Linked DNA regions of Homo sapiens. The protein of the gene in region 3 purifies or fractionates together with the protein of the main gene of each other region. This does not show direct contact. Each region holds a gene or a part of one and is shown on either strand. Other genes may lie near its edges.

Region 1 (3,653 bases), on a different chromosome or scaffold from region 3:
TTCTGTATCATCCAGACAACTCTTAATATTGTTCATGTATATCTTAAAATAACCTAAATCATACCTGAAAATCATGAATGATGTGATGAACTGCATTAGAATCCAACAGATTAACCTGTTCAAATTTTGGTCTTGCTCTTCTGAAACCACAGCCAACTGCATGCCAATTATTCTGCTGAAATTCTTTGTGTACAGCTCTGCCAAGAAGCCCAGTGGCACCAGTAACCAGAACCCTCCTATTAGGGATGTTAACTTCCTCCTAAAAGGTGAAGGCGGATAGAAAGAGTTACTAACTTTGAAAACAGTTCTCTCAAATATATTAGGCACCATCGTTGTTCCCTAAATGTCTTAATTCTACGTATTTTGACTCATGTCCCATATCTGCAAGCCAATTCTAAAGTTAAGTTAGGGTCGGGCATCAGGCTCATGCCTGTAATTCCAACACTTTGGGAATGCGAGGCAGGCAGCTCCGCTGAGCCCAGGAACTTGAGACCAGCCTGGGTAACATAATGAGACCCATCTCAATACAAAAAAACAGTAAAAATATACTTTGTATTTATAAAAATAAATTTTTAAAATAAAAAAAGCAGAAAACACAACTTAAAAATGTAATAAATAAAGTTAGAACAATGATTAATCAAACCATATAAAAAACTGTATCACTTAAGAAAAAGCTTTTGCCAGGCATGGTGGCCCATGCCTTTAATCCCAGCACTTTGCGAGGCCAAGGCAGGTGGATCACTTGAGCCCAGGAGTTCGAGACCAGCCTAGGCAACATGGTGAAAACCCGTCCTTCCAAAAAAAAAAAAAAAAAAAAAAAAGCAAAAATTAGCTGAGCTACAGGTGGTGCATGCCTGTAGTCCTAGCTACTTGGGAGGCTGGGGTGGGAGGATCACGAGCCTGGGAGGCCAAGGCTGTAATAAGCAGAGATCATGACATGCACTCCAGTCTGGGGGACAGAGTGAGACCCTGTTTCAAAAAAAAAATTTTTTTAATTAAAAAAGTTATAATAATCTTACCCAAGGAAAGGAACACAAGATGATATGCAAGGAATTATGTAGATTTATATTTCCTATGTTAACAGAAAATCCTATTTTTATGATTGATAATACCCAAATGAGTTAGTAAACAGCAACTTTTTTTATACTTTTGCTCCAAGTACCTAAATAGTAAATAACAACATTACATTCTTCAGTTTATAAGACTTTACAATTTGTCTTGCTTCTATAGATACGACTGAAGGTGCTCTTTGAGTCTCTAGAGAGAAACGTGTTTTAAGTTTACCTATTTTAAGGCCTGATTAGTATTTGCGTCAAATCTGCCAATATATTTACAAGCTGACATTTCTGGTCTTCAGATTTTAATCCCAAATGTTCTTTCAAGTCTCAATAATTTATCATATTTTGATGGACCCAAGGTAGAGAATTAATCAACATTTCAAAGGAATATACGAGGAGGAAAAAAAACTTGGTCCTTACAACACTTAAATGCTTTCTAAGTTTAACCAAATTGGTAAATGTTCCTTAGTTAACCCAAAATTTACCTACATAGAAGAGTTAAAATTGGCCAGGTGCAGTGGTTCATGCCTGTAATCGCAGCACTTTGGGAGGCCAAGCTGGGCAGATCACCTGAGGTCAGGAGTTCAAGACCAGCCTGGCCAACATGGTGAAACCCCATCTCTTCTAAAAATACAAAAAAATTAGCCAGGCGTGGTTGCAGGTGCCTGTAATCCCAGCTACTCGGGAGGCGAGGCGGGAGAATTGCTTGAACCCAGGAGGCGGAGGTTGCAATGAGCCAAGATGGCACCACTGCACTCCAGCCTGGGTAACAAGAGCAAGACTACATCTCAAAAAAAAAAAAAAAAAAGCTAAAACTAATAAACGCAAAGGATAAGAAAAAATATTTTAAGCTCATCTGTGTTGCTACTGTGAAACAAATAAATTATTACACACAGAAATGAAAAAGAACCACTATTTAGGAAAAAATTTAAATTCTATGTTTCCAAGCATAGTTCCAAAAATGTCCCTTCTTCCCAAGATGGGTAACACCAAGTTTCCAACCAGGATCTTGAATAAAGTCAACTTTTACTATTAAAAACAAACCAGTTATTTTAACTCAAGAGTTGTTATAATCACCTAATTCTGGGCTGTCAAAATCTTTAAATACATATACAATAACCAAAGACCTTTTAAAGCCCTTAGCTCAATTAAATTACTTAGCCGAATACATACATTTTTTTTTAAAAGACACCAAAATCAAGTATTTCTAGCAATCAAAAACGTAAAATGAAAAGACTAACAGGGAAAGATAGTATAAAGGTAAATTCTTAGGATTATTTTTCCTTAGTTCAACCAATTTCAAGACATTTTAAAAGTTGAAAGCAATTTCATTCAGGCTGTGTTGCAAAACTTGGCTCTAAACCAACTGATCTATGAAAACAAGGATTTCAGCCAACAAAATATTTTCTTTGAAATTTGGCAAGAAAACAGCTCTACAAAGATTGAACTGTAAAGAGGAGAAAACATGCCAAGTCTAGTACAGATACAGTCAGAGAAAACAATTTACACAGGATAAATACGGTAAAGATTCCTGAAAAAATACTCTAAAAGAGAGATAATTTGGTTTCTTCTGAGTTCCTCACTTTTTACTTCACTCTACGGAAGCAAAGGAACAGGTAACAGTTCCTAAGGTCAGTGGTTCTCGTGCTTCAGTGTGGATCAGAATCACCTGGAGGGCTTTTAGATCACAAAGGTCTGGGGTGGGGCTTGATAATTTGCATTCCCAACAAGTTCCAACAAGTGATGCTGATCATCGTGATTTGGAGACCGCACTTAGAGGACCAGTGTACTCTCGAACTCCAGGAAAGTTCAAAGCTTTCATAACAATCCGTTTCTCTTACACAAGGAAAACAAAAAGTGCCATCTACCTTTCTCAAAATGACAACAGTATCTTTCCCCCTTAAAAAAGAAAACTTGAAATAGAAGCCAAAGCATTATACAATCCACAAAAGTTACTAAACAATGAATTAAGATCTGTGTACTTCACTGACTCTGTGAAGTACAGTTTCATTTTAACATCTGTTAAATGAATTTAAAAAAAATCTTATGAATCGTCACAGTTTTGCAGTAGTTTTTGCTAACTTAATGCAACTTAAGAGCCCAGATGATCTTCTTTTAATTAAGAGCTTCTTGGAGTTGATGCAGTATTAAGTATAGAGAAGAACAAGGCTCTTTAGGGAATATAATACCTTAACGTAAAAAAGGAAGTGGAGTTGTATGAGAAAATGCAACTTTATATCCTTATACCCCTGGGTTACTATGTAAGGCCTCCAGTACGCCCGGCCTATAACATGTTAATTTTCAAATAAAATGTTGTGCAGTATCATTTCCATTTCAGTAAATGCTTGCACTTCAGATCGTCACTCTTAATAAAAATCTTGAGCACTGACACCTGACTGCTGGGTACTGTACACTGTTTCATATTTTTTTCTAGGTAATTTTAGGTAATCTAAGCTACTCGGGAGGCTGAGGCAGGAGAATCGCTCGAACCCAGGAGGCGGAGGTCGTAGTGAGCCGAGATCGCACAACTGCACTCCAGCCTGGGGGACACGAGCTAGACTTCATCTCAAAAAAACAAACAAACAAAAAAACCAA
Region 2 (3,753 bases), on a different chromosome or scaffold from region 3:
TGGGAGTGGCAGTGCAGTTCCTGGTCACAGGAGAGGCAGCAGCTCCCTAAGCGGTGTGGCTCTGCTGTGTGGCTTTGAAGTCATTACTGACAGCTCAAATGGCAGTCTTCTCAATCCTTCCTACACTTAGGTAGTCAGTTTAGTGCCCCGAAATAAACCTATTCTTGCTTTAAATAGCTAGAGTAAATTCCGTTATTTGCAACTGAACTCTGATCTAACAGACTACAATTTATATTCCTTCCAATAAAGGACCTGTTTCCTTGGCAACTACTTCTGTCAGATGAGTTGCTTTCCATTTTTTTTTTTTTTTTTTTTTTTACCAAAAAACTGCAACTGCAAACACACTGGGGGTAAAATGCTGCATTGCCCACTACTCTCTGGACAAAAATAAACATATTCAAATTTATACTGCAGAAAGTTTTATAGAAAATACATAGAACAGTCCAAGAATTTTGCTCCTGTTCCATTGGCTATAGTCGCTTTCTAAAGGAGATGTTTATTACTGCCCAATAAGGTAAAAGTATCAAATTGCTAAAATGAAAGATATGCCTAATTTGCTTACCTGCTACTCTGTGAGTGTACAAATTGGCCTGATTGCTACATTATTTGAAGATTAAAGGTCATTTATTTTCATATATGGAAAGAATATGTAACTCTCAAAGTAAGCTAGGTGTTACATTAGCTTGGGATTCTCCTTAAACAAGGAAACATCAAGGTGACAGGATTAGTTGTTTTGCCAGCCCAGAGGCTAAAAACGACGTCCCAGATCACGTCTTAGAAAAGTTTTGTCAACAAAATGAATTTTCATTGAAAGTTACCTCAAGGACACGGGGAAAATGAAATGGATAAATAGAGCATGAAAATGAACTGTGTGCTAGGCCTGGACGCCCTAATTATCATGCTCTTCCACCTGAGAGTTCATGGAAATCTCTAGACTGGATTCAGTCACGCCTTTTTCCGTTTTGAGACACACACACACACACACACACACACACACGATTTTCTTCCACATCCCACCAAAACTCGAGGATAGAAGGGCTCATGTTTTGGAAGTTAGAACTTTGAATATAGTGAATGTATTTGCATTTTTAATTATTACGTAAGAAAACTGAGTATGATTTTGCATCTAATCTCTGTAAACACATATTTGTGAACTCTCTGGAAGGTGAACTCACACCTATATTTGCAGCATAACTGTCACTTTATTAAAACCCCTTTAGTAAACCCCTATAAGCGAGATACATACGTGCAACCCCTTAAACAAACAGAAAACCAACAGTTTAAAATCCAATTTGAGCAAAAGAACTCTAAATCCAGGGACTGAACGTCGTTTCCGGGAGTGAGGGGTGGGGCGTGGGGGAGGGGGCGCTACACTTCCATTTTCTGTAACCTTTTAAATGAATAAGGCTTCAAACTATTACATATGTTTATTATCTTTAATATTGGAAAACTTTTGAAACACCAACTTCATAAACTTTAAGTTAAAACTATATGTGGGTGATCCACTTAAAATTAAGCTTTGTAAATTACACCTTTTTAAAAAATTTTTAGCCAACTTTTTGCACTCTAAGAATACAAGTATGTTCCTGGTTTCCCCAGTTCACTGGCTTGTGTCGGCGGCTAGAGGAGCTGGGGAATCCTAGGGAAATTTAAGGAACGTGGAAGAAGCGCGAGGTTGTTCCCTATTGCCTCCACGTTTCTCGTCCCAGAGACTCTCAACAAAGCCTCCGACCCCCAGCAATGGTGTTCCCCGCCCCAGGGCTCACTACACCCACACACCACAGAAAAGGGCGCTGGGGCCTGGGTGACGCGGGAAGGAAAACACAACTTCGATAGGTCGCAACTTACTCTCCTGGCTCCAGCCAAGAGGATTTTCCGAAGCCCCAGGTCGGATCTCGCCGCAGCCTGCCCGGCCCTTTTCCCCCCTCGGGCAGCAGGAAGGAGCGCCGGGCAGGTAACGCGCACAAGGGCGGCGGGCAAGTCTGGTCGCGAGGTCTAGACCTCGCCTACCGACGCCCTCCCCGGCGGTGGCTCCCCTGTCCCGCTTGCGGCACTTACCAGGAGAAGCAGCAGGGCGTACGCGCGTCCCGGGCTCCGCGCCATCGCACCCTCGCCTCCGCCTCCCGCCGCCGCACCGCTCCGCGCCGCCGCCTGCCCCGAGCGCGCACTCGGCTCCTCCCTGGCCCCGGCCTCCCCCCGGCCCGGCCACCCTCTCCCTCCCCGCCCCGAGGGCTGTCTTCCCGTGGCGGTTGCGCGGCCCAGCCCAGCCCAACCCAAAGGCGCGGCTCCAGGTGTGGCCGCCGCGAGAAAATGGAGCCGGGGGCCGGCCCGGGCCGCTTTTACAGAGGTGGGGAGTTCAGCAGAGGAGGGAGGCGCGGGGTGGACTCCCGCCCGCTCGCACTCGCACCTGGGACCGTGACGTCCTTGGGTTGGGGACTGTGGGTGGCAGGCCCCGCCCCGCCGTTCTCTCCTTCCCGACCCCCTACTCTCTGGAGAATGGCGGGAGGAGGGAGCCTCCTGGCGGGGCTCGACCTGGGTAGCGCGGGTCGCAGGGCCCCGGCCCAAGGACAAAAGCTCCACGGAGCAGAGTCCTGCGGGACCAACCGGCCCAGTGGCTGCGGGGCCAGGCCGCCCAGCACCGCCCAAAGGTCCCGCACTTTGTGATTGTGCTTTGGGCCCGGAGCGCAGGTGTCGCTAGTGACATGGGGACCCGTGTCCTCAGGAAAGCTGCGACCGCGGTGCGTTCGGCCCGCTCTCCTGGAGCGGAGGTTGTGGAGCAGAATTTCAGGTGGCTGTCTCCCCAAAGGCTGCTCTTCCCTATGGCCCTTCACTGCTTCCAACAGGTTTGCAGCTTATCTGGCTCAAGGAGAAACAATCACCAGAGGTCAAAAAGGACAATTCTTGGGCTAGGAGAAAACTCTAGGGTGTTACGGGAAATATATATATTCTTTGAAATGATTTACAATTTCTATTACACCACTAGCTAGATCAGAGGCCCCGCTCCAAGAGTGACTAGCTGAGTGGCCTGGACTAGCCTCTCTGGGCCCCAGTTTCCAGATCTGTCAAATGGAGTTAATAGCGACCAACGCACGGGGAAGTTTTGAGAACGAAATTGGAAAATCTTAGGTAAAGCATTCTGCAGTGTCTAGAACTTAAGGGTTCAATAAATAATTGTTAAAATTAGAACAACGTGATTGCGAGGTGAGATGTTAAATTGACATCTTGAAAAGCAGAAACTTAGTATGGGCATCCAAACACTAGAATCAGCACCGGATTACGAAACTTCCAAGAAATGTAACGACTGAAAGTAATGGACGAGCCTATTGTTCTGTGCGAGAAAGGCGCAAGGGGAGAAGAAAAGACACACACACCATACTTTTAAGGGTAAACAACCTTTATCCCAATTAAATGGCAACGCGGATATAATAAGCAAATGATATAATAAGCAAATTGCAATGGGAAGGGGAGAAGGAAAAGATATATTTATAGGTACACTCACCAGACTGTGGAGGATTCACCACCACACCGGGAAGCAACAGCCTGGGCTCCAGAGTCGGACACTACACTCACCAGACTACAGAGGATTCTCATGAAGTTTCCTCATGGTCTGGGACCCTAGCTCTTATCGTAACAAGTTGTTTGGCATGAGACCCAGTCACAAGGGCCCTTCCCGACTGGACTCAAGGAACACAAAAAGGTCAACTTGTGTTTGCGATTGTCTGTTGTGTTTCAATAACTAACAAATAGGAATTT
Region 3 (3,653 bases):
TATTTGACTTAGAATCCCAGGTTAGCTTTTTCTGCAGATAGTGGTCTTTATACCTTTAGCCTGATACCAGTTTTCCAATTCCTCTGGAAAGGAAAATGGCTGTAAAAGATCACAGATACTTTCAGTTGAATATTTTTGTTGCTAAGAAGCTGAAGAATGACTATCTTTGCTCTAGAACTTTCTTCTCTAGAAGAAATATATACTGTACCTAAAAGAAGAAGAAGGAAGAGCTCTCCAGGAAAACATTGTCACACTTGTTTCTGGCTTGGAGATTCATGAATTAGCTGCCAAAATTGAAAGCTTGGCGATCGTCCCACTTTCTGTGGCATGTGGTGTTGACTTTGTTCAGGCTCAGGGAATGTCAGTGTGTACTGGATAACTATAACTAAGGGGATACAGAACAGTTTTTGATGTTGTTGATTACTTTGAAATTCTATTTTCTTATACATTCAGAAAAATCTGGTAAAATGTGAATTTTCCAAGCTTGGCAGGCTAGAGTCTCTCATTAATCTGTATTTTCATTTTAAAATGAGTACTTTGCATTAGTAAGTAATTTTAATTTTTGCCATTACCATCAACTGTATAATGACAGGTTCAATATTACTTCAAATATCAAATGTCTTATTTAAAAGCTGCAGCTATGTGACCAATTTAATATATTGGAATTCGTGATTTTCAAAGTTACTCCAATAGTAAGAATCAGTGGCTTGAATCTTTTTTCATGTGAAAATTTCTGTCATCCTCTTACATACTTTTTTTTCCCACCAGGGCTGTGCTTCTAAAATATGAGCAGCTTCCCAGTCACTTGGGCCTGGTATCACTTTGCCTTCTAGCATTTTACTTCTATCCCAGCTTTGGCTTCCTTCCAAGGTTTTTCATGACTTTTCATGTTTTCAGGCTTGGGAAAACGGAAAACGAGCATCTACCTATAAAATTACATGTTCAACCTCTCATAAACTCAGATGCATATAAACTGAAATAAAAAAGGAAATTGAAAATCATGGAAGGATCTGGAGGCCATTATCTTTAGCAAACTAACACAGGAACAGAAAAGCAAATACCACATGTTCTCACTTATAAGTGGGAGGTAAATGATGAGAACACATGGTCACATAGTGGGGAATAACACATACGGGGTCCCTTCAAGGTTGGAGGGTGGGAGGATCAGGAAAAATAACTAATGGGTACCAGGCTTAATACCTGGGTGATGAAATAATCTGTACAACAAACCCCCATGACACAAGTTTACCTATGTAATAAACCTGCACATATACTCCTAAACTTAAAATAAAAGTTAAAAAATAAAAAATAAACTCATCACAGAACTACCTCTTTGGGGCTTCCAATTGATTTGTTTTAGGATCACCTGACTGTCTCTTAAGCCCTGGCTCCAAGATTCCAGGCTTATCTTCATGGGTGAAAATAATTTTCTAGATTTGCTTAGCCCTGGGGCAGAGTCTGATGTGGTCATGGAAGAAGGGAGTGATGACAATGATAGTGAAAGGAACAGTGGGCTCATGGATGATATGGAAGAAGCAATGGTCCAAGATGCAGAGATGGCAATGGCAGAGTGCCAGAACGACAGTGGCGAGATGCAAGATCCAGACCCAGACCACGAGGACGCCAACAGAACCATCAGGTGAGAGCAGCACTCCCAGCCTCAGCCAACAGGGGAACCCCAGGCAGTATTTTCTCTTTAAACCTCTTTGATATTTTAATAGATTATAGTAGAAATGTGAAGTGCACGTTTACTTTTATATGAATGAACTGCGTGCTGTAAATGAGAGCCTTTGAAGTTAGGAGGTCTGGGTTCCCTGGGAGAAGTGTGGTTGCCATTCTTTCCCAGCATCACCTCATTCATTGAACTATTTTTTTTTTTTTTTTGCATGTGAGAGATGCTCATGTTTGCCATCCACAAGTTTATTACTAAGTTAATATTAATTTGAAGCTCATTGTGTAGAAACAACAAAAATCAAGATCAAACTCAGCAGAAATCATCTATTTTATTAGCTGGCCCCTGTTACAAATATCATAGTCTGTGTACACTTCACTGTTCTTGATATTATTTCAGAAGTATGTGCAATTTTATATCTGTTATTTAATTATGCTTTTGGTTACTGGATGATCCCCACTTTTTATATCAGGAGTCAGCACAATGTGGCCACCAGAGCAAATTGGACTGCTGCCCAATTTGTAGTAAAGTTTTATTGGAACATAGCCTGTCCATTCATATTGTCTGTGGCTGCTTTTGCACTATATTGGTAAAGTTAGGTCTTTTGCAAAAACTAAAATATTTATTACCTGGCCCTTTACAGAAAATGTTTCCTAGTCTCTGATTTATATTATAAAGCCTATTGAAACTTTTGTGTCCATTTTACGAATGCCATGTTTATTGACAAACAAATTGTTCATGAGAGTAGAGCAATAAAATGATTGTTTTTTTCCATTTAATGGCATAATGAACATTTTTTAAATAGTGGGAAATAATTGTCTTGTGACCTGTCTTTTGAAGACATACACTTCTTTAGTACCAAAGAGTTTGCATGGTGCCGGGGGGCAGTGGTGGGAATTACATATATATTCATGTTGTGGGAAGGGGGACAAGGAGGGAGGGATGAAGAGAGGAAGAAACAGAGACTAGCAGATTCCAATTTTTATGACATTATGCAGAGAAACTAAAAATTCATGTTGAATAATGTAATCTCTAAATGATTGATAATGTACCTATAATAGGAAATAAATAAGCAAATAAGCTTTCATGTGTGAGTCTGAATAGTGTGGCCTCAGTAGACTAAGAAGTACTCTACCTCAGGTTTACCTGAAAACTGAACACCATACAGTTCAACCCAAAATATGAGGTGCTTATTACCCAGCCTTGGGAATTTTTTTTTTTTTCAGATGGAGTCTTGCTCTGTCACCCAGGCTGGAGTGCAGTGGTACAATCTTGGCTCATTGCAACCTCTGCCTCCCGAGTTCAAGCAATTCTCTGCCTCAGCTTCCCAAGTAGCTGGGATTACAGGTGCCCGCCAACATGCCCAGCTGATTTTTTTTGTACTTTTAGTAGAGACGGGGTTTCACCATCTTGGCCAGGCTGGTCTTGAACTCCTGACCTCGTGATCCACCCGCCTCGGCCTCCCAAAGTGCTGGGATTACAGATGTGAGTCACTGCACCCGGCCAGGATTTTTTAAGGTGTACAAACAACGTGCCTATCACTCTTCAGAGTAACCCACTTTCAGAACCATGGTGCCTGACAATACGTTTTACTAAACATGAGATGTGAATTTTGTAAAGTTTCACTTGGATTAGCTGACATAAGGTTTTATGCATGAAAATACATAAAATGTACCTGAAAACATTTTTTCCCTACAATATTTTGACTTCTCAAGTCCATCAACAAGCAACAATATCCCACTCATGAGGGTAGTGCAGTCTGTCAAACACACGAAGAGGAAAAGCAGCACAGTCATGAAAGAAGGATGGATGGTCCACTACACCAGCAAGGACACGCTGGTAAGATCCACAGGGAACAATGTTCTCTTGCCTTGCTAGCTTTAATTAGAGGAGTTGCTAATGTCCCGTGAGGACTGTGAGATTTCTGCATTACTCAGAGTAAACCTCAGCACAGGCATGACACGGGATTAGGTAAGGTGCA

What was found.
Region 1: the proteins of PRKD1 (region 3) and MAT2B purify together in Homo sapiens (affinity purification with mass spectrometry; one large-scale study listed by BioGRID and IntAct). This does not show direct contact.
Region 2: the proteins of PRKD1 (region 3) and DSG2 purify together in Homo sapiens (affinity purification with mass spectrometry; one large-scale study listed by BioGRID and IntAct). This does not show direct contact.

Annotation. Positions count from the first base shown.
Region 1 is NC_000005.10:163,508,608-163,512,260, reverse strand, and holds part of MAT2B (methionine adenosyltransferase 2 subunit beta), read right to left. Parts: intron 260-3,653; coding exon 65-259; intron 1-64.
Region 2 is NC_000018.10:31,496,602-31,500,354, reverse strand, and holds the start of DSG2 (desmoglein-2 preproprotein), read right to left. Parts: upstream 2,179-3,753; 5' UTR 2,104-2,178; coding exon 2,059-2,103; intron 1-2,058.
Region 3 is NC_000014.9:29,634,276-29,637,928, reverse strand, and holds part of PRKD1 (serine/threonine-protein kinase D1), read left to right. Parts: intron 1-1,434; coding exon 1,435-1,639; intron 1,640-3,387; coding exon 3,388-3,511; intron 3,512-3,653.